3 linked regions of the Homo sapiens genome follow. The protein of the gene in region 2 purifies or fractionates together with the protein of the main gene of each other region. This does not show direct contact. Each region holds a gene or a part of one and is shown on either strand. Other genes may lie near its edges. The genes, in order: MAP3K7, PELI3 and IRAK1.

What was found.
Region 1: the proteins of PELI3 (region 2) and MAP3K7 purify together in Homo sapiens (affinity purification with western blotting; 3 studies listed by BioGRID and IntAct, with this or other methods). This does not show direct contact.
Region 3: the proteins of PELI3 (region 2) and IRAK1 purify together in Homo sapiens (affinity purification with western blotting; 7 studies listed by BioGRID and IntAct, with this or other methods). This does not show direct contact.

Annotation. Positions count from the first base shown.
Region 1 is NC_000006.12:90,576,824-90,584,147, forward strand, and holds part of MAP3K7 (mitogen-activated protein kinase kinase kinase 7), read right to left. Parts: intron 1-7,324. UniProt on the Homo sapiens protein: Serine/threonine kinase which acts as an essential component of the MAP kinase signal transduction pathway. Plays an important role in the cascades of cellular responses evoked by changes in the environment.
Region 2 is NC_000011.10:66,469,581-66,476,904, reverse strand, and holds part of PELI3 (E3 ubiquitin-protein ligase pellino homolog 3), read right to left. Parts: intron 5,664-7,324; coding exon 5,534-5,663; intron 4,537-5,533; coding exon 4,435-4,536; intron 3,665-4,434; coding exon 3,470-3,664; intron 3,416-3,469; exon of another isoform or gene 3,169-3,415; coding exon 2,980-3,168; intron 2,762-2,979; exon of another isoform or gene 2,680-2,761; intron 1,976-2,679; exon of another isoform or gene 1,801-1,975; intron 1,308-1,800; coding exon 738-1,307; 3' UTR 1-737. UniProt on the Homo sapiens protein: E3 ubiquitin ligase catalyzing the covalent attachment of ubiquitin moieties onto substrate proteins. Involved in the TLR and IL-1 signaling pathways via interaction with the complex containing IRAK kinases and TRAF6.
Region 3 is NC_000023.11:154,016,613-154,024,182, forward strand, and holds the start of IRAK1 (interleukin-1 receptor-associated kinase 1), read right to left. Parts: upstream 3,291-7,570; 5' UTR 3,201-3,290; coding exon 3,065-3,200; coding exon of another isoform or gene 2,987-3,064; coding exon 2,819-2,986; intron 2,717-2,818; coding exon 2,585-2,716; intron 2,467-2,584; coding exon 2,363-2,466; intron 2,176-2,362; coding exon 1,987-2,175; intron 1,744-1,986; coding exon 1,679-1,743; intron 1,509-1,678; coding exon 1,394-1,508; intron 456-1,393; coding exon 337-455; intron 33-336; coding exon 1-32.

The sequences.
Region 1 (7,324 bases), on a different chromosome or scaffold from region 2:
GTGTGGCTGGTGTATAGTGGAGGAAGGGAAGAGTGATTGTAAGGTAAGGCTGGAGGGACAGGCAGAGGTTGGATCCTGAACGGCTCTACCTACCATAAAAAGGAGTTTGAATTTCAGTCTAAGTGCAATGTGAAGGAACTGAAAAAATTCAAGGAAGTAAGGATGGTATGTGACATTAAACAAAATCATTATAGCTCTTAAAGAAAGGATTGTAGGGAAGCTAGGATATGTAAATAGAGACCCATTAGGAAGCCATTACAGCAGTCCAAACAAGCAACAATAGCTACGAGGGCAAGGTCAATGGTAGTGCAGAAACTGGGCAGATCTGGGAAATGTTTTAGAAGTAGAGTCAATAGGGTTTGCTGATGCTCTGCATCCAGGCAGGACAGGTGTAGAGGAAAAGAGCTGAATCAAGGAAAACACCTAGACTGGACAACAGTTTACTGAGGGATAAGAATGATGCAGATTTTTTTTTAATAACTCAGAGTTTGGTTTTAGTCATATGAAGTTTAAGATGCCTACTGGATATCCAAGAGGAGATATCAAGTAAGAAGGTAGAAACGTGAGTGAGAGGATCTATGGAGAAGTCAGACAAAGAGATACAAACTTGGGAGTCATTAGCATGTAGTCAGTTTTTCTAGTCAATCAGTTGGAAGAGGTAACCAAAAATAATATGGAGATAGTGGAGTAGAGGAACTGAGCTTTGAAGCAGTTCAACATTTAGATCACAAGAGAGGAGAAGGAATGGGCAAGGAACAGGAAGGAACAGTCAATATGGTAGCAGGCAAACTAGGAGAGAGTCAGAGAAGCCAAAAGAAAAAGACGTTCCAGAAGGAAAGCAGATATAAGGACAGTGAAAGCATATGCCAGTGGCTCTAAAAGTGTGGTCTCCGGTTCAGCAGTATCAACATCACCTGGATATTTATTAGAAATATAAATTCTCAGGGTGCAACCCAGAATTATAGAGTCTGACGGTAAGGCCAAGCAATCCATGTTTTACCAAGCCCTCCAGGTAGTTTCAATGTTTGAAAATCACTGCATTCAAGGCTAATCCATTAACAACAGATAATAAGGCAAGATATTTCAGTGGAAGCCATCACACAGACCAGAGAGCTCTCCCTTGCTGTTTATATTATTTGTGGAAGCTTTCCACAGCACCCATATGTCATCTTGGGCAGGAGAAAGGGAAAAGGAAAATCCTTATGGGGGAAGACTGAATTTTGAAATAACCGAATTAATCTTGAAATTTCTGAGTACAAAGATACATAAAAGAGGTAAGTATTACATGGAAATTATCCTTGTTGTGGCAAGATTAAATGCTTTTCTCTACTGAGTTGAAAAGAGGAATGACTCATAATTAAACAGTAGTTTATAGAAAAATAGTTACATTTCTTAACTTTTAAAAACAAGTAAGAAATACCGGCAGGAGGACAGGAGTTTGTTTTGTTTTGTTTTGTTTGTTTTTTTGAGACAGGGTCTCACTCTGTTGCCCATGCTGGAGTGCAGTGGCGCGATCTCAGCTCACTGCAGCCTCTGCCTCTCTGGCTGAAGTGATTCTCCTGCCTCAGCCACCCCAAAGTAGCTGGGATTACAGGCTTGTGCCACCACACCCAGCTAATTTTTGTATTTTTAGTAGAGTCGGGGTTTTGCCATCTTGTCCAGGCTGGTCTTGAACTCCTGAGCTCAGGCGATCTGCCTGGGTTGGCCTTCCAAAGTGCTGGGATTACAGGCGTGAACCACTGCACCTGGCCAGAGACAGGAGTTTTGTGCTTTAAACAAAAAAGAGTATAAGCATATATCCATAAGAGTAGAAGATAGAATAATCAGATGATATATACAATGGATAAAGTTGTTTCCTGGTATATTTTGCTCTCCTTCCCCCCATTCTGATATTAGCTCTCTAAGGGAGAAGTCTGAATGGGAATTAGAGGTGGCAGAAGGTGCTACGTAGCATAAAAAAAGCTTCCCAGGGCATTCCAATATACTTCTCATTCCTTTCTTCAAGAAATAACATTTTAAAGAAATGCAATTTTATTATCTGTATAACGATAATGCAACCTTATATTTAACAATATATTACAACTTGTAAAGCTCTTTCTTACAAATATGATGGAGTTTGAGTGTCACCATAAACCCATGAATATATAGGATTTTTTATTCCTACCTTAGAGAGAAGAAAACCAAGGCTCCAAGAACTGAAGTTACCTATTCAAGGATCATGTAATTAGTAAATCAGAGTCAGCTTTCAGGTATGTTTCATGGTGCCAACAAAACAGAGGCCTGCCAGGATTTGGTCCAGTGCCTGGTACAGAGAAAAATGCTACTCAAAGGCAGCAAGTATGATAACTAACAACAATTAACTTTTCAAAAGATTATATTCGAATCAGATTTTAGCTGTTTAGAAGGGGGTTTTAAAAAGCCCTAATCTCCTTTAAGAAAAGAGTGAAGTTGGGTTAATAGAAGGCTTGTGTATAAAGGGCTTATGGCAGTCTCCAAAGATGGCTGTCAACAATCCCTTCTCTGCCTGTCTCTGCTTAAGAGTTCTATTTTAGCCTCCTTCACTGATTCTTCCTTCCTCTGTCCAAACCTTAGATGTTGCTACTTTCCAGGGTTCTGTCCTTGGCCCTTTTGTTTCTGAATCTGTTCTCTAATCTCATGGATTCATACTCTCAAATCTCTCCCATCCAGGTTTTTTGCCCAAGCTCAAGATATATTTAAAACTGCCTTTGAGACTAAGGGGTCCTACAGGCTTATTAAGTTCAATATGTCAAATACTGACTCCATTATCAGTCCCTCACTTGTGTATATTGTAGTTTACTTGACCTTAGTTAAGTAGATTTACAGATATTATCTCATTTTAATTAAGTCAATTCTCACATTTTAGAAAGGTTTTATTTAGAAAGTACTTATTGCAACTTGAGCCATGATCAAATGATAGTATGAAACCTTTCATCTCCCATTGTTTAAAAATACCGACTTCATACATACACACTGAAAACTGAGTATACAAAATAGAAAGTGTTTTGTTTTACCAGTGGGAGACAGACAAACAAAAAATTGTGGACACCACCGCTCCAACAGGAAACGCTGGTTAAGAAAGTTCATTACTGTCTGCACTCCACCTCTCAGGCTATGTAAAACAGCACTCCACTGACTGGGGAAAATCTTACATGTGTATAGATTTTTAAAAAATATATCACATATTTCTAAGAAAATGTTTCAAATGCAAATATCTTGGTAACAAATTTCCTTATTGTATTAATCAAGAACATAAAATCGTGGAGAAGATCAGATGTAGAATAATAGTATGTCTGGACTGCAAAGGCCAAGCCTAAAAACACATAAGGAGATTATGTACATTATTAGATAAGGAATGAGCCAATGTTACAAACTACAGAAAGCAAATTTGATATTTTTCTTGACATATGGTAGATCAACAGAAAAAAAGTGGCATAGATGGCCACTCTTGAGACATACTGGCAACTGAGGTAAACAATGAAAAAACTTAATATTCAAGTTGTAAACCACTGAAAGAAGGCCACTTTTTATTTACTACCAAATTTCTAGTCCAAGTTCACAAATCAAACGTGCTTTCTGAACCGTATTCTTTTCTGAATAATACAGTTTATTTGACACACTGTAATTAACAATTAGGTTTTTTGTTTTTTAAAATTTTTTATAGAGACAGGGTCTCACTATGTTGCCCAGACTCGTCTCAAACTCCTGGCCTCATACAATCTCCCACCTTGGCCTCCCAAAGTGTTGGGATTACAGGTGTGAGCCACCGTACCTAGCCCAACATTATTTTAAATGACTGTTTTTTCCCCAAAGATGAATTTTCATCAAGAGTAAAAAAGAGAACATATCAAGTTACAAGTATTTCCCCATCACACACATCCAACTAAAATGGTGACATACAAATAAATATTTCAGATATTCTTCATAATCCTTCATTTGTAAAAAACAGAGGAATGCAAAAAGGACTTTGGTTTTAAAAGGGAGGTCAATTTGGAAATATTTCCTTCTAAATTTATGAATGTTTTCTAAATCAAAATGTTTTTGATTAATTACTTTATGATAAGCATTTCTCCCCCTATGGTTGAAACCTCTTTGTTTTGGGTCTACAACTTTAGTCTCATACAATTAAGTAGATTTAAATTTAATTTCTTAATAAAAAATACAGAAGAATATGAGATGGTATATAGAACATTTCCATGCAACTACTATTGAAAGGCACAAAAACAAAAATCAGGTTTTGTGTGTTTGTGTGTTATTTTTAAAGAAATTCCTTTAAAAATTAATTTCTTTATGATGTAAGATGACTCCATTCCTTCAGACAAGTCATGTTAAAGAAAACAACCAAACACACACCTAACCTAAATGGAAAAGGATGTATGCCTTTGTGCTCTTAATTTATTATTAAATAATTCTTTTAATTGTTCTGAATTCATGTTATTTTTAGTTCAGTGACTACAGCTGTCAGTTTCATTTGGCCCTGTTCTATGAACTATCTGAATGGACCCCTGGTGATGCTGGCATTGTTCTGGCTGGAAATGCGGAACAAGACAGAACAAGCATAGATCATACATTTATTAGTTAGGACTTGGAGCCTCCAACTATGTTAGAACTTCAATATCTATTAATAAACTGTGGCAGAGTGGAACTGCCATCTGCTGACAAGATGGATTTGATAACATAAAAGTAAAGCTTTGATTATTCAAACTTTCTTCTGAATGTTTCATGCAGTCTTTTAATACCTGCCACAGTACATCTCACCCATTTTCTAGGCTTTTATTTCAAATAATATGCTCATGCTATCTTTTAAGCTACACGTGTACAATGCAAAAATTATCTCTGTAGCTACCTCTTAACTATAGTAATTCCAGATTTCTACTGAAATCAGTGGTCACTTTCACATGAAAGAATGTATTGATTATTTTAGGTATCCATAATTAAATAGTGACTAACAAATCTATGTACTCAGTTTGTTTAGACCACTATAAATTAGGTTTTTCTCTAATACCAATTCCCCATATATTTATAACTTAAACCTACAAAGTACATATAACTGTTTAAGTTCTATCTATATCTCCTCTTTGTAGCATATTTTAGCTTTTAAAACAAAACTTTTGTGTGTCTCCTTAACAAAGCTGAAGAATATATACAAATGCTGCAGTAATTTTATGTGTCCAATACTATAGCTTTGTTCCTACACTATAGTTGAGGTCAGCATTATGGGTCTCCCTTTTCAAAAGCAACCATTGTAAATAGTGTCTTTTTAGCACTCTGTAGTAAAGACCTACCATACGTGGCTTACTCATAGCATCTGGCCCTTTACAGCATTTTTTATCCCTGCTAAACAAAAGTATCTGCTAACTATAATAGAGTCGACATTAAAACAAGACTCGGATCTCATTTCTAACGTGTTGCCTTAGCCAAATCGCATAACTCAGCTCCTATTTTATCACATGTAATATAAGAGAACAAGATGGGCATTTAATTCTTATGATTATGCTGTGATACTTTCATGTACTCATTGAACAAATATGTATAGAGAACCTTCTAGGTTCTAGGCATTGGGGTTACAAAAGTGAATAAAGCGCCTTACATTTTGCTGAAGGAGAGACACAATTTCAGTTACTGGTAAGTACCATGAAAGATAATAGAAATGACAAAAGATCTAGGTTGTTCAGGGAATGCTTCTCTAAGGAAGTGTTAATAACATTTGAGGTGGGACTTGACTGGTGAGGAGTCAGTCATCTTAAGTTATGGGGGAACAGCGCTTTAGGCAGAGGAACAACTACAAAGAAAATTCATCTTAGTGACTTTCCCAACCCACGATGGTCACTTTATTCAAAACCTAGTTTTAAACTTGTCCCTACTCAATGGAACCTTCTGTGATTAACTCTATTTTCAAATTATGGCTTAAGTGTTTAATTTACACTATATTCAGTTTTAAATTTGTGGTCTATAGTTAACTGTTCTGTGTTTACTCCAGTCTGATATCATACTAAGTCAGACATTTTAAGGAGGTAATCCTAGGATTCTTCTATCATCTTTTTTTTTTTTTTTTTTTTGAGACAGAGTCTCCCTCTGTTGTCCAGGCTAGGGTGCGGTGGCATGATCTCAGCTCACTGCAACCTCTGCCTCCTGGGTTCAAACGATTCTCATGCCTCAGCCACTCAAGTAGCTGGGATTACAGGCCTGTGCCACCACACCCAGCTAATTTTTGTACTTTCAGTAGTGACGGGGTTTCTCCGTGTTGGCCAGGGTGGTCTTGAACTCCTGGCTTCAAGTGATCTGCCCGCACTGGCCCTCCAAAGTGCTCGGATTACAGGTGTGAGCCACCGCACCAAGCCCTATTTATCTTTTATAGTACCTCAGAGTATTACGCACAGATGAGAATGTTCATTAAATGCTCAGGACCAACTACACTAAAAAGGAAATCAGTATTTTGTTTCCCCTTTCCCATATTAGGTTTGGTTATAGAGTACTTCAGAAAGTACTGAGTGACACTGTAAATCCAGTGGAAAGGGCAACTGACTCACAAGTGAGAAGTCTCATATTCAATTCCCAGCTTTACCATTTACTTAGGCATGCGGCTTCTGGCAAGTCAAACTCTATGACTGCTTGTCAATATCTGTACAATGGGATATCATTTGCCCTGTCAACCCAGGATTAGTTGGTCACCAACTGAATTCTATAGGAGACCATGATCAGTCTTTAAAGAACTGCTAAGCTTACTATAGAAAACAGTTAAATACTGGAAAACATGAATGTGTTTTCATTTTAGAACTGGAAAAGACCTTAAATGATCTTGTTCAGTCAGTTTACATGAGTAACCACAGGCCCAGAAAAATGTGGTGACTTCCTCAAAGTTACAAAAATATATTATGGCAGAATCAGTACAGCATCTAAATTTTCTTTTTCAGTCCAGAACACTTTCCACTATACTACCCTGTGTAACACTTCTTGCAACCCATCCCCTCTTTTATTCCAACATTCTCTACAGCCAGTTCTAGATGGTAAACACTAAATGATGTTTAAAAAGTACCTAGGCAGATTTCTGAGGCTGAGACCTTACCTAATTTGACTGAATTGAATTGAATCTAAGATGTGCCAAACTAATACTACTGAGTTACAATATTAGAAATGCAAGATCAGCTAATGTCTTAGAAATATGTATCTACTAAATGGCTGCATATTTGGCCTGTAGTTGAATTATTATTTTTTTTACAGTTTCTAATTATATTGATATAATACAATTCAATTACATTGAGAAATACATGATTTTCTTAATTTAGAAGGTAATATTCTCATACAA
Region 2 (7,324 bases):
CCCTCACTTTTCCATTACCAGTGAGGCCTGCCACAGCCTGATTTGTACTCTGATCCTGGCACGCATGAAGCCGTGTTGCCATTTGTTAACAGTCTGTCCTCCACTAGACTGTGAACTCCACCAGGGGGGGAACCAGGTCTGATTGCCTCTGTGTCCCCAGATACCACTTAGCACAGAGTCGAGCCCATAGTGGCTATCAGCAAGTGCTAGGCCCAGCCTGCCACCCACCCACCACTCACTTGGGGGCTGGAGGCATTGCACGCATGCGGGGCATGTGGGACTTGTGGGGGCAGCTGAGCAGCGAGGTTTATAGAGGAACCCAGGGCGGCAGCAGGAAGGATGAAGGATGAGTGTCTGAAACTGGGTTGGCAGGCTCAGGGCATAGCCAGCCTAAGCTGGGGGTCAAAGGCCCCTGGCCCCTTCACTCCCCCAGGGGCACACAGTGTCGGCGGCACGATGTGGGATGCCCCAGGAAGGGCAAGGCCATGGGGCTGGGCTTTCCTCCATCGACCCAGGACAGAGCTGGTGCTGAAGGCCCCATCAGCATGACTGGGGTGGAGATCTTGGGGACCTCCTTGGGGGGCCACAGTTGGGGGGAAGGGCACAGCCCATCCAACATGTCCATCTGGTGTGGCTGTGCCAGCAGGGAGTGTCCCACATGCAGAGCTCCCTCTGGGCTGCAGGAGGTGGGGACCTGGGTGGGCAGGTGGGCACAGCAGCAGGGGGCCCCAGGGAGCCTAATCCAGCGGGCCCTGGAAAATGAGGCGGACGCAGCCATGCTCGCCGGTAAGCCAGGCCCCGCAAAAGGGGCAGGCGGCATGGAAAGCATGGGTGCCGTGGGGCAGTGGTGTCTGGGCCCAGTAGCGGGCAGTCTTCTCAGAGCAGACGTGGCCGCAAGGTGCAAAGGCATGGCTAGGCGGCCCAGGGTCCAGGCAGAGGCCGGCCTCCTGGCCAAGCCATAGAGGCACATAAGGCCCCACAAGGCGGCAGAGAGGACATTCGCGCTCCTGGGGGCCCCGCTCCCGCCGGCAGCCCCAGCCGTGGTAGCCATGGACGTGCCCGCAGCGGACGTAGACCCAGGGCTGCTGTTTGTCGGGCGCTGTGCGGCCACGGGCTGGGCTGGGGAAGGCCAGAGTGCTGAGGCCCACGGGGCACTGGGGCCGCGCTGCATTTGCCTCCTGCCGCTGGGCCTCCAGTTGCTTCAGTGTGGGAGCCCGCAGCAGCCCCGCCGGTGTGCGCCACAGCAGTGTGGCCCCACACAGGTCGATGAGAGAGCCGTCCTGCAGCACGTTGGACTCGTTTTCCACCTGCCAGAGGCAGTAGAAGGGCCTTACTGCCCAAGAGGCCCCTGCTGAGCCGCGGGTCCATCCCACAGAGCCTCCCTGGAGAGGACACCCTGGCGGGCAGGGCAGGCAGGGCAGAGGAGCAAGGCAGGCTAGGAGGCCAAGTGGGCAGGCAGGTGCATCCCAGGCACATGCTGATCCCCCCTCCCAACGGGGCATGGGCCTTGGTTTCCCCATCTGTCTAATCAGGAAGTCTGACCCAGACAGGGTTTTTCTAAAATAAGATGTTTTCTGAAGTGCCCTCCTCCTGACAGAGGCAGGAAAGGCCTCTAATGAGGAATGCTGGGTACTTAGCTCAAAGCTAACGGGGAATGCTGGGTACTTAGCCCAAAGCAGCTGTCCCAGTAGTTACAGTTAAAAGCAAAAACTCAGGAGCTAGGCTGCCCAGGCTGAATTCTGGCCTCACCGTTGACTAACTGTGTCCCTTGTCGAGTAACTTAACCTCTCTCCATCTCAGTTTCCTCATCCTCAAGATGGACTGCACCTTCTGGCATCTCAAGTGGTTCTTGTGAAGATTAAATGAATCCATCAGGCCGGGTGCGGTGGCTCACGCCTGTAATCCCAGCACTTTGGGAGGCCGAGACGAGCGCATCACCTGAGGTCAGGAGTTCCAGACCAGCCTGGCCAACAAGGTGAAACCCCATCTCTACTAAAAATACAAAAAGTTAGCCAGGTGTGGTGGCTCATGCTTGTAGTCCCAGCTACGTGGGAGGCTGAGGCAGGCGAATCACTTGAACCCAGGAGGCGGAGGTTGCAGTGAGCCAAGATTGTGCCATTGCACTCCAGCCTGGGGGATAGAGTGAGACTCCATCTCAAAAAAAATAAATAAATAAATAAATAAATGGATCAATCAGTTTAAAAACTTAGAACAGTGCGTGGCAAATAGTGCTCAAGAAGAGTAGGCTTGTGAAACATTCACATGCATTGTTTTAACAAACAATGCTTCCCCAGACCTCCCCACAGAGTTGACGCTCTGGAAAGAAAAGCCAGGCTTTTCTCTGAGGTTTTGCATCTCCTTGGCCAATGTGCTCATGCCAGAGAAGAGCAGTGCATGGCCAGTTTGAGGAGCACGGCCATGTGACCTTGGACAGCCCCTGCCTCTCTCTAGGACTCACTCCCGGTCCCTAACCTCAGCTCTCTGATCTGTACCACAAGGAGCTGCCACTAACACCTGTGTCAGAACTACTGTAAGGACCCTTTCCTCCTGCGAGAGGAGAACAGTGCTAAACCTGTCTGAACGTGATAGACATGCTACAAACTGCCAACCCTTTAGGCTATAAACTGCTCACACATGGGCCAAGTGTCACTCTCATAAGAAGGTGTGATTTTTTTTAAGCTGCCAGCAGCCTTGAAGCCACCTGGGACTGCACAGTATGTCTGTGTGTGCCTTGATCGCATCACCCCCTGGACCTCCAGTGGTATGCATGCTATGCTTGGGGACCCTGGTCTGTCTGCCTGTCTGTGGGACAAGTGGCTCATGCTAAGAACCCCCTGGGCCTGGGATTCCCTGATATGGAGCCTGTTGGGGCTCCCTGGGGCAGAAGGACTGGAGATCATCTCCTGGCTTGGGCAGGGGGATGGGCAGCTTGTGAGGGCCTGGCAAGGATAGGGGTGGGGAATGGAGCGGGCCACCTACCAGCTTGCCCCGCTGCTGGGCTGAGCGGCTGTCCCGCAATGTGTACACATTCCCACAGACCGAGATCTCCCGCCAGACACCCGGGGCTGAGTCCTCGGAGAAGCCGCCTGCCGGGTGCATCACCAGGACTCCATTGGTGGTCAGTCCATCCATCAGGCCATCTGGGGTCCGCCATTTGGCCGCTCGCTCCTGGGACCACATGAGGGATCAGATCACATCCCCCAGGGGCCCCCCAGCAGGCCATGTGCCAGAGGCACTGCCCCCGCTACCTTCAAGTTCAGAGGCGGCCCAGAGAGGACTGGCATTGAAGCTGCATGACTTGAGCGTCTCTCTGGGCCTCACTTTGCTCATCAGTTAGGTGGGGTTGCTAACTGCCAGGACCACCATTTGGATTACTGTGGGCTGGTTCATCACCTCAAGATGCTGCACCTCCCAAGCCTACCCCTTGCCTCACAGATGAAGAGTTGGTCCCTTCCTGGGGCTCACTCACTCCAAGGAAGATGTTGCTAGAGGCATCGAAGCCAGCGGCATAGATGCGGGCAGTATAGGGTGGCCGGCGGTCACAGAGGATGCGGCAGGCATAGCGGGAGATGGTGCTCTGGGCAGAAGGGCCCTCGGCAGCCCCTCCTCCAGGGGACGTGTCTGTTACCACGAAGTCAATCATGTTCTCTGTGGAGCGGCCAATCTGTGAGGACAGGGAGAGCAAGCAGGGACTGTATGTACATAGGGGACTCTCATGGGCCTTCCCTCCCAGAGTACCAGCAGCTGCTCTGTATGCAAGGTCACCAAAAAAGGAGGCTGCCAGGCCCTGGAGAAGGGGCAGCACCAACTCCATAGGCCCTCTAGGCTCCCAGGTGGGGTCTCCAAGTCCAAGAAGCCGTGGCCTGGAGCAGCTTCTCCTTCTCTGTTGCCCCCACAGCACTAGGGATCGCCCCATTCAATAAATACAAGTTGATTTGCTGATATAATTATAAGAGGGTGCTCAAATGTTAGCAGCAGATAGTGACTTCTAAGTAACTATTTGCTATATGCCAGCCACCATGCTAAACATTTTATATGCAATGCCTAAGTTAATCTTCCCGTGGGGTGGGTACTATTATGGGCCTCATTTTACAGATGAGTAAACCAAGGCCCAGAGAACTTAAGTGATGCTTCCCCAAAGTCACCCAGTGGTAAGTGATGGAGCCAAAATCTGAACCCAGGCACTAGGCCTCTCACACCTGAACTCCTGAGCTGTGTGACCTCCCACAGTCTAGGAGTCTTGAATTTGATCCTTGATATAGCCACTGACTTGCTGTGTGACTCTGCAGTCAACAGCCCACACCGGGACATCCTGCTTCCTCGTCTGGAGAGAAGCAGCTTTCCCATGGCCTCCCAACCCGTAGCCTCACCTGAAATGCTTGCAGAGCCTAGAGGCCTGGTGGCCAGGAGGTGTGTGGAGAGGCCTGAGCATACCTGGAACATGTCTGTGTCGCTATCATGTGTATACTCCACTATGACCGAGTGGCTCCGGGACAGTGTATACGAGATGCTGTGCTGACCACGGTTACTCAGTGCCTGGTGGGGAGAAAAAAGTCACTTGCCAGGGTGTGCAGCCATGATAAGTGTATGCCTTGAGCAAGCACCTGGAGCTCAAGGCCCAGCAGCCACTCCCTGGGAAGGGGGCAGCTCCATCCTTCTCAGAGGGTGGACAGTGCAGCAGATGTTTCACATGATTTAAGCCCTACAGTCACCCTAAGGATGGGGTTATCAGGCTGGGTGCGGTGGCTCACGCCTGTAATCCCAGCATTTTGGGAGGCTGAGGTGGGCGGATCACTTGAGGTCAGGAGTTCAAGACTGGCCTGGCCAACATAGTGAAATCCCGTCTCTACTAAAAATACAAAAAAAAAAAAAAAAAAATTAGCTGGGTGTGGTGGTACACGCCTGTAGTCCCAGCTACTCGGGAGGCTGAGGCAGGAGAATGGCTTGAACCCGGGAGGCAGAGCTTGCAGTGAGCTGAGATCGCACCACTGTACTCCAGCCTGGGTGACAGAACGAGATTCCGTTTCAAAAATAAAAAGAATGGGGTTATTGTTCCATTTTAGAGTTGAAGAAACTGCAGGTCAGAGAGAAACTGGCCTAAAGGCACACAGCTGGAAATATCAGAGGCTGAATTCTAACCCAAATCCTCTAAAGTCAAAGGTTTTTCCTTTATCATTGCAGTATGACTGTCACCTCCCACTCTCTGAACCTTGGCTGCCTCTAAAATGGTGCAGCTCATTTCCACCCATTTCCATTTCCATTGGATGGAAATAAGCAGCACCATCTTAGAGGCAGCCAAGGTTCAGAGAGGTCCAGTGGTTAAGGCAACATTTTGCAAACTGTAAAGAACTGCGCACACTGCAAAGGATTTTTCATCACCATTCTCGGATGGCCCAATAAGCAGTGAGTGATGACACAAAGTGGGCTCCCCTGTTAAGGTGTGGGGGCTGTGGGCAGGTAGGACCTGGAAGGCCGAAGACCTGGGCCTTGGGCAGGGAGGGCAGGACCTCAGGTCTATGGGTCAGTTGCTTGCCTTGGAGACGAGCGGCGTGGAGATGTGGTGCATGACGTCTGGCTTCACCCCGTTGGCGTGCGACCGGCGGCTCAGTGCCAGGCGGCTTCGCCGGCGGCCCTTGTCCCCACTTGCCAGACAACCATTGTAGCTGTAGATGTCGGGGGTTAAGAAGAAGGGGTTGCAAGAGGAGAGAGAGAAAGAGAGAAAGTGAACCCCTGATGAGACTTGGAGGAAACTGCCAACTTCTAGGCAGATCCTACCTTAATAAACAAGCTCTACAAGCACCTGAAACTAGAAGACCCTACAATAACAAATTGGTACCTTGGGGAGTGGGAGGGGGGTGTCAGAGCAGTTTCAAAAGCACTTTCATTCAGTTAACCAAGTATTTCCTGGACACTTGAGCCATGCCTGGATGGGTGCTGTGCACTGGGGCGGTAGAGGTGATGCACCACGGGTCAGTTGTGGGCCCTCAGTGGAGGGGTTCCTCAGCTTCTCCAGGAACCTAGGTGCCACCTGCCACACCCAGGCACAAGCCAAGGATGCCATAAGCCTAGAGGAAGAAAAGGGAATTCTCGCCCTAGGATCAGGTTTCTGGGAGAGGGAACACCTCTACTGGGTTTTGAAGAACTAGAAAGGGTTCACCTGTAGTAAGCTGTCACTTATCACACCACTACTCAAAACCAAAATGGAAGGAAAAAATGACACACAATGCCAGTACCTCCATATGTCCATACATGTCAAATTTCCACCTGCCTTTCCAGCTCTTGTCTGGAGGGCATGGCTGTGAGAGGCACAGAGGAGGTGAGGCATAGCTCTCATCGCTGCCATGGGCTGCTGCCTCTGTGTTCCTGGCCTTCATGTTATCAATCACCTAATGGAATCTGTGCAGTGGCCTGCCAGGCAAGTGGCTTTCTGCCCATCTTACAAATGAGAGAAATCAAGGCTCAGGGAGGTAATGTGACTTGCCTCTGGCTAGTAGGTGAAAATGTCCAGATTTGAGCCCAGTCTCTCTGACTCCAGAAGCCCCTCTAGATGGAGGCTCACCCTAAGCAAAGGGCCCAAGGCTGGCAGGGTCTGATGAGATCAGGGAATGGTGGCTTTGGTGGTGAAGTATGTGGGGGAGATGACACTGGTGGGAGGGCTCTGAACTCCAGGCTGAGGACATTATTCAACAACCAGTGGGGTGCCAGGAAGGTCTGGGAACAGGAAGTGACAGGACAAAGAGCTGCCAAATACAGACAAGGCCACTTGAATCAGAATCTTCTAGTGAGTTTGTTAAAATCCAGATGAGGCCGGGCGCAGTGGCTCACACCTGTAATCCCAGCACTTTGGGAGACCGAGGCAGGCAGATCACTTGAGGTCAGGAGTTCAAGACCAGCCTGGCCAACATAATAAAACCCTGTCTCTACTGAAAATACAAAAACTAGCCAGGCATGCTGGTGGGTGCCTGTAATCCCAGCTACTCAGGAGGCTGAGGCAGGAAAATCACTTGAACCCAGGAGGTGGAGGTTGCAGTGAACTGATATCGTGCCACTGTACTCCAGCCTGGGTGACAGAGCAAGACTCTGTCTCAAAAAAAAAAAAACAAAAAAAAAAAACAGATTCCCTGGTCCCACCCACTGCGACTGTGATTCTGTAGGCTTGGAGAGGGCCTGTCAATGTGTATTTTCAGTGCCCTCCAGCCAGCTCTGATATGCAGCCAGTGTGGACTCTGCTCCCCAAGGGGGCTGACAGGAGGGTCCATACCCATGGGTCTGCAGCCTCCCACATTAGTGGCCTTGCCTTGGGCTGGAAAGCCAGTCCTGCCTT
Region 3 (7,570 bases), on a different chromosome or scaffold from region 2:
GTGTCAGCCTCTCATCCAGAAGGACGTTGGAACTTGGGGAGAGAAGACAGTGGCGTCAGCCCGGTCCTAGCTCCTACACCTGCCCGGCTTAGATAAGGCTGGACTCGAGGCTGCCAGCCCGGTGCCTTGCCCACAGAAAGCGCTGGCACTGCCCTGAGCGCTCCAGCTGCCTGGGGGCCTCTGCTCATCAGTAGGGCCCATCCTTGGCCCGTTCCCACACCTGTGCGATGCCGGGGTGTTGAGGTCCCAGGCCATGCCTGATCCCCACATTGATAGGACGCGGGGCCCCCCTTGCTGCAGGCCCTGCCCCGGCAGTTCTCAAGGGCCCCTCCTCACCTCTTGATGTCTCCATGGATGAGGCTGGGGCTGTCCTGATGTAGAAACTGAATTGCCCGGGCTGTACCCAGAAGGATGTCCAGTCGCTGAGGCCAGGAGAGAGGTGGGCAGGCCTGGGTCTGGGGTGGCAAAGGGGGACAGGGGAGGTTGCTGGATGGCCGTTCCTTGATCCCAACCATCCTTCTACCTGTCACCGTGCAGCCTGGAACAGCCACTTCACTCTCTAGGCCTCAGTTTCCCCCTTCTGGAAAACGAGGAGCAAAGTCTCCGTGACCTGCACTTCTTAAGCAATGGCTGGGGACACGTTCAATAGAATCTGCTGGGCTTCGGCTCCCAGGGCTCATCCCTTTGTCCCTGGTGGTCGGGAAGTCCTTGAAGGCATTCTTCCCGCTCTCCCCAAACGCAGCATGCAGGAGGAGGCAAGGGGGCCCTCCCTCAGCTGTAGGTGGTCCAGCTGGTAGCCCCAGACCCCCTCGCCTCCGGGGCTTGCTGATGAGACCCTCCAGCTACGCTGCTTGCAAAGGGGAGAGGCCTGGGAAAGAGCTCTATAGAAAACATTGGGTCGGGCCAGGCGTGGTGGCTCACGCCTGTAATCCCAGCACTTTGGGAGGCTGAGGCGCGCAGACCACCTGGGGTCAGGAGTTCGAGACTAGCCTGGCCAATGTGGCAAAACCTCATCTCTACTAAAAATACAAAAATTAGGCAGGTGTGGTGGTGCATGCCTGTAGTCCCAGCTACTCGGGAGGCTGCGGCAGGAGGATCGCCTGAACCCGGGAGGTGGAGGTTGTGGTGAGCTGAGATCACACCACTGCACTCCAGCCTGGATGACAGAGCAAGACTCCACCTCAAAAAAAAAAAAAAAAAAAAAAAAAAAAAAATTGACCCCACCGTGGGCCAAATCCTGAGCCGGGTGCTGCTGGGGAGCTGGAAGTGCAGGCCTGGCCTGCTGGCAGGACCCACTCACACAGGCTGAAAGCCCTAGGCCCCGCGCCCGGCTCCAGCCAGGTGTCAGGAGTGCTTTGGGTCCTGGGAAGCGTGCCGGGCCAGGTGAGCCTACCTGGCAGTGGAGACGGTCCTCCAGGGAGCCGTTGGGCAGGAAGCCGTACACCAGGCAGTAGAAGCCGTTCTGAGCACAGTAGCCAGCAAAGTCCACAATGTTTGGGTGACGAAACCTGTTTGAAAAAGGGGAGCACTTTCCATCAGGCCAGACTGGGTGGGCAGCCCTGGCTGGGGCCTCAGCTCGCCCGGGCCTGCCAGGCCTCAGGTGCCCAAGGGAGCCAGGTCCTGTGGTGTGCGGTCTGAAGCCCCACGGGACCTGGTGTGGCTCCCCCTCTGGCCTCACCTGGACAGCTGCTCCACCTCGGTCAGGAAGCTCTGCTTCACTGCAGTCCACTCCAGGTCAGCGTTCTGCAGCCCCCAGGGTGCGGTGGGGGAAGGGGCAGGGAAGACGGGCAGCGTGAGGCTCTCGAAGCGAAGGCCTTCGGGCCACCAGTGCCACCTACCCGAGGCCCAGAACCACCAAGGGGCCAGGGACCCTACGCCAGAATGAGGGCTGAAGGAGTTGTGTGGGGAAGCGAGGGGGAAAGGCTGGAGAAGTGGTGAGGGTTATCTGATGGCCTTCCAGGGTCCCTGCCAGGGTGCGACACTCACCTCCTTCAGCCTCTTCACAGCATACACCGTGTTCCTCATCACCGCCCGGTACACGCACCCAAAGCCACCCTCCCCGATCTTGAGCTCCTCCGAGAAGTTGTGGGTGCCCCGGGAAATCTCACAGAGGGGCCAGCAAAACGGAAAGGGGCGGGCTCCCTGCAGGAGGGACACTGAGCTCTCTGGGCCTGGCTGTGGGAAGAGAGCCTGGATCAGGTGGGGTCCCTGTCTCTTCCCTTCTGCCCAAGGCTCCAGGCTCTCCCCACCACAGCTGCCTCCCAGCTGACCCAGCTTGGCTGACTGGGGCTCTGCGCTACATCAAAGGCTGAATTCCTTCCTCCTTGTCTCGAATCTTCCCTGGGGGGCAGGGGACACCTACCTTGGTAGAAGAAGGGGCTGGAGATGGCGGTGGAGGCCACAGGGAAGCAGGGCTTGGGACCAGGCCGAGCTCAGGCCCTGAATGGGTCTGGGAGCCTGGAAAAGCTTCATAAAGACACCAGTGAGAGGCAGGCAGAGACCAGCAGCAGGGTCTACAGCCGTGGCCGTGGTCAAGGTGGGCTCTTCTTTGGGTCCACCGAGCCTAACAACCGGGCCCTCTTACCTGGGGAGAGGAAGGTGGAGGCTGAGGATGGCAACTTCCGGGGGCTCCAGGCCTCGGCCTCGGCGGGTGCAGGGATGCTGCTGGGCCTCGGGGCAGTGGTGCCTGGGGACGGAAGCGGGGCGGGAGGGTGCCCTGGGACGCCAAGGAAGGAAAGGAAGGTTGAGGCCCGGGTGGGGGAGCCCCGTGGGGCCCGCCGGCCTCCCAGCCGTGGGGTGCCCGGAGTCCCGCGCTCACAGGCTGTGATGATGTCCCGCGCACGGAGCAGCTGCAGGTGCGTGAGGATGTGCACGAGGTCGGCCACACGGGCGTTGCGGTTGATCCAGGGCCACAGGACGCTGGCCGTGCGCTGCCCGGAGCGCTCGCACAGCCGCAGCTCGGTCTGGTCGCGCACGATCAGGGCGGCTGCGGGGCGGGGGGCGTCAGGCGTCGGCGCCAGGAGCCCGCGCGCCTCCCGCCCCCCGGCAGCCCGCCGCCACCCACCGAACTGGCACCAGTCGGCGGGCTCCAGGGCGTCCATCACTTTGTAGAAGCGGCACATGACCCAGGGCGGCACCTCGTACAAGAAGTGCTGGGCGCCGGGGGCTGCGGGCTCCCCCGGGCCCGGCCCCCCGGCCATGGCTGCCGCCGCCGGGCCGGGACCTGCCGGGGCCTCTCAGGGCCGCGGCGGGCGCGGGCCTGGGCCGGCCGGGTCCGCGGACACTGACTCACTTCCCCTTCGAGCCGGCCTCGTGCGACGCCCGGCGGGGCGGAAGGGGCGGTGCCCGGGCCCGCCGCCATCTTGCGCGCCGCGGCCGCGCGCTGGGTCACACGGGGGCGCCCCGCGCCGGGGAGGGCCCGGGTCCCGGCGGGTTCCGCGAGCGGCGATCGGCCTCCCGGGCTCGCCCGGGCGGGGCTCTGGAGGACGAACGGCGGCTCCCGGCGTTGGGGACAGAGGGCAGGGCGGAGGCCCGGGCTGCTCGGAAAGGGGCCGGGGCCGGGCCTTCCGAAAGCTCCTGGGCGGCCCTGCCGGAACCCTGCTCTCCACTGCGGCCTGCAGGGCTGTTACCAGGAGCCCTGCCTGCCCGCCCCACGTCTAGCCCCCTGCACACGGCAGCAGCCTTGAGCCATTCAGTCTCCTTAGGTGTCCTGAAATATGCCGAGAACGCTGCCCGCCACAGCCGTGAGTGTATGCGTTGCTGCTGCCCCAGCCCTCATTTGGCAAGGGTGAGCTCAGGCAGCTGTGGTGAAGGCTTCCTGAGCCCGCCGGCAGAGCTCCTGCCACCCCGTACCTGTCCCCTCCTGGGCATCGTCCTTGATTACTTGTCTGGACCGCCACCCCCGGTCCCCGCCCTGAGATGGGGAAGACCCCACAAGCAGCAACGCAGACTTACTCTTTTGTTTCTCCAGCTGGATGTCTCCTCCAGCGACAGTTCCCCTTGCCCTCTTGATCCTGACAGCGAAGGGGTTCCCCACCCCTAGCCCTACAGACTTAGGACTTTTCCTAGAAACGAGAAGTGCCCAAGGCCCACAGCTGGCCCCTGTTGGAGTCTCTTTCCTGAAGCCACCACCACTGTGGCCACTCCCAAGGAAGATGCCAACCATACCATGAAACCCATGGCTTCTCACGGGACAGACTTTACTGAGATGTACCAACTCAAGTATCTGAAATGACTGCACACCCATGCTAACCTCCACGGGGGCACTTGGTCCTACTTACACACAAAGGCCCATCAGCTCACGGAACAGGGCTGGCATACGAGATGCTCAATGCATACAAGTTGACTTTTCAACCCTGGGATCTACCTTTGAAGGCCAGGCCTTCCGAGGGTACCTTCTAGCATGTGCATGTGAAGCTGGACTCCTTTGAGCAGTTGTCTCCTCCAGCCCCTTACCAACCTGGTGAGGCTGCTCCTGAGAGCCAAGGAAGCCAGTAACAAGGGGGCCCCCTTTGGGCAAACCCCTCAGCCTGCCCTTGCCTGGTCAGAGAACCACGTTAGCAGTCAACAGAGGGCACGTGAGGGTCCTGGCCAGAATGAGACACAGGAGGAGCCACAGCCTGCGGGGGTGGGGGTGTCCAAAAGCACCACAGCACATCCAGACCTAGGGGGTGCCCCTACCATACGGGTCTGGAGCAGGGAGGTTGTGCTGCAGGCTGACTCATGCCAGGCCCTTCCCGTCACACGCTGGAGCAGTGTGCCTGGAGAGCACTGGCTTGGAAGAAGCTGAGGGGCCAGCGAGGCCAGCATATGGAGGAGGCTTCCCTTGGCCGCTCGTGGCAGGCCTGAAGGCAGCTACCTGTGTCCAGGGACAGCCAGATCCAATGAGGAAACGCAGCACCATGCTGTCATGTGAGCTGGAGGGGGACTTCTGTCTTATAATGAAAGCCCAGACCTTGAGTCACTTTCACAGAGAGATTTATCGAGAATGCTAACAGCACAGGATACAGTACTTCCCAACAAAAGGTGCAAACGCGTCACTTAGAAAGGCATGCTGAGTATTCTTTGCTTTCACATGTATTAAAAAACTTACAAAAATAAAATAAAACTGCGTGCTGCCCATCTTTTCCAATAGTAAAAGAACCTTATGAAAAAATCACTTGATTTTTACAACAAAAGACACAAACGGACATTTTTATGTAAATTTATAAGGCAAACTCTTTATATAATAAATAGGTTACAGGGATTCAGTGGGGGGGGGGTGTTTTTGAAACGTATACAGGTACATTCAGACAGGTTTACTGAAATGGTACAAATTTCCTTAATAAATTGCCTTTTGTTTTTAAATATATCAGTGCTTTCAGTCATTTGGCTATACACAAAGAACCTTTTTTCTGAACACTACAAAAAAGCAATCAATAATTTTTGTTTTTAAAACGACCTACTTATTTTCTAAAGTAATTGTCCCAAAACACAAAAACTGAAGGTGAATACGATACAGGGCTTTTAGAGACATCTCCAGCTAAGTGTGTCCCGGCCTCTCCCTGTGCCCCAAGTGCACCTCTCCCAACCTCAGACAGGTTTCCAGGCTGGAGCCAGCTCCCTTCTGCACAGGGTGGCCTGTGTTACTGGCAATGCTGTCCATAGCTCTCGGCCTCTGGGCTGGCACAGGGGAGCATGACTTCAACTCAGGAGGGGGCAGACACCCTGCCTAGCTCTTCCAGATGCTGCACCCGGCATGCAATGGTCACTACAGTCAGCACTCTCCGCCTCTCAGAGGAGGGAGGGGCTGTCAGGTGTTTTGGGAGCCCAAAACCATGCCTAATGAGGGTAATGGCTTTTCTAAGGAGATGTTTTCGCCATGGAATGGGAAGGGGTTTTCTCACATCTAAGTTTTGCTGGCGATCGGGTGACAGCCAAGAGAGTGCAAGCCCCCTCCATGGTCATTTTATTGCCCTGGGAAGGGGAGGGTGGGGAATAGAGATGTCACAGTGTTGAGCCCTGGAGGATGGGGTGGGATGTGACGGAAGTGTCTTAAACAGTAATGCCCACGGGGCACACCTTGGAGAGAGAATGCCCACCACCTGGCCTGTCCAGGAAGAGCTGCATCTGCCAACATTAGCCTGACCTGTGCCCACAGCAGAGCGTCCCAGCCTCCTGCTTGGGTGGGCCCAGCCCCATTCTCCCCAGCTCTTCAGCTCTGCACACACACATCCCCTCCTGGCTCCCCTCAAGGAAACATCAATCTTGCCTTTCCTTAAAAGCACGGGATGGTGGTAATAATCTCGGGGGGAGGGGAAGCAAAACAAGAATCCACTGGGCGGAACAAAACCTGGTTTTGCAGTGACTTGGAAAGTGGCAACACATCAGCTATTCGGCTTGCTGGCTTGGAGTGGGACTCCTGGGCTCCACTGCTTTGGGTGGCTTCTGGCTGATCTGGGCAGGGGTCATCTGTTCAGCTCTCCCCTCTCATCTCAGTCACCATCCCCCTCCCTCCGAATGCTTTTGTTTGTAAAGAAAAAGTGTCTAGAAATATTTGTCTCTGGAACAATTACTTTAAACATAGTTACAATACAGACTTCAGTTCAAACACAGAAGAGATTTACTTAGCAAAATTCCTTTCACCCACCAAAAATTACACAAATATAAGCCTCAACACCACAGTTAAGAGGACCAGTAGAGAGAACCTCATGTTTGGAACACAAAAGGAGAAATAAAAACCAAACCAAACCCAAACAGAAAAACCCCAGAAAGACAAGTAAAGGGCAAAGAAGGAAGGGGAAGGGGAGCAAACACAGCACACGTTACAGTGTCCAGATACACGGGAGCCCAGCATGGGCAAGGGCTCGGCACACATTGAGTAACAGTCCTGGTGATATTTGGTCATATATTCATTGACTACTGACTCTGGAGCGGCTGTTATTGATTGAAGCAGTGACAAATCAAACGGAAAGGAGGCCGTGGTAGCAAGGGAAGGAGCAGGCTTCAAGTTCTGCAAGCCTTTTGCACTCCACTGTCCAGCTCCCCAGAAACACTGAACCGGGTGGGCCCCGCTCCATCCGGGCAGGGCTAGAGGTCACCGGGTGAGGCTAACTCGGGCGTCGATTTCATGTCAGTCAGAAAACACGCACGTGGACGCACGCAGACACCCACCTGTTCACGGCCAAACATCAGCGGCAACGGCCTCCTCGCCTCCTCTGCCCCTATCCCAGGCTGGGTGGGAAAGAGCATCATGACCCACTGCTAACACTGAACACACGCCGGAGCTGGCCCCGGATGTGGGCCCAGAGGCTGCCCCAGCCCTGGTCCTCCGAAGGGCTCACGGGTAGCCCGGCCACTGAAAGGGCCTATGGCTGTTTTTCTTTTGGATTCAGGCCTCAGAAGAAGCAATGACAGCAGGGAGGGAAGCTTTTGGCCCTGGTGATTATAATGCTCTCTGCTTTGGAAGAACAAGTTTCTGGATTTTTTTGGTGTTTCTAATTATTAAAAAAAGATGATCAAAAAGAACTGTTACAGCTAAACTCTCTAGCAGATATTGCTCATTAAGAATTACAAAAGCAAATGCAATTAC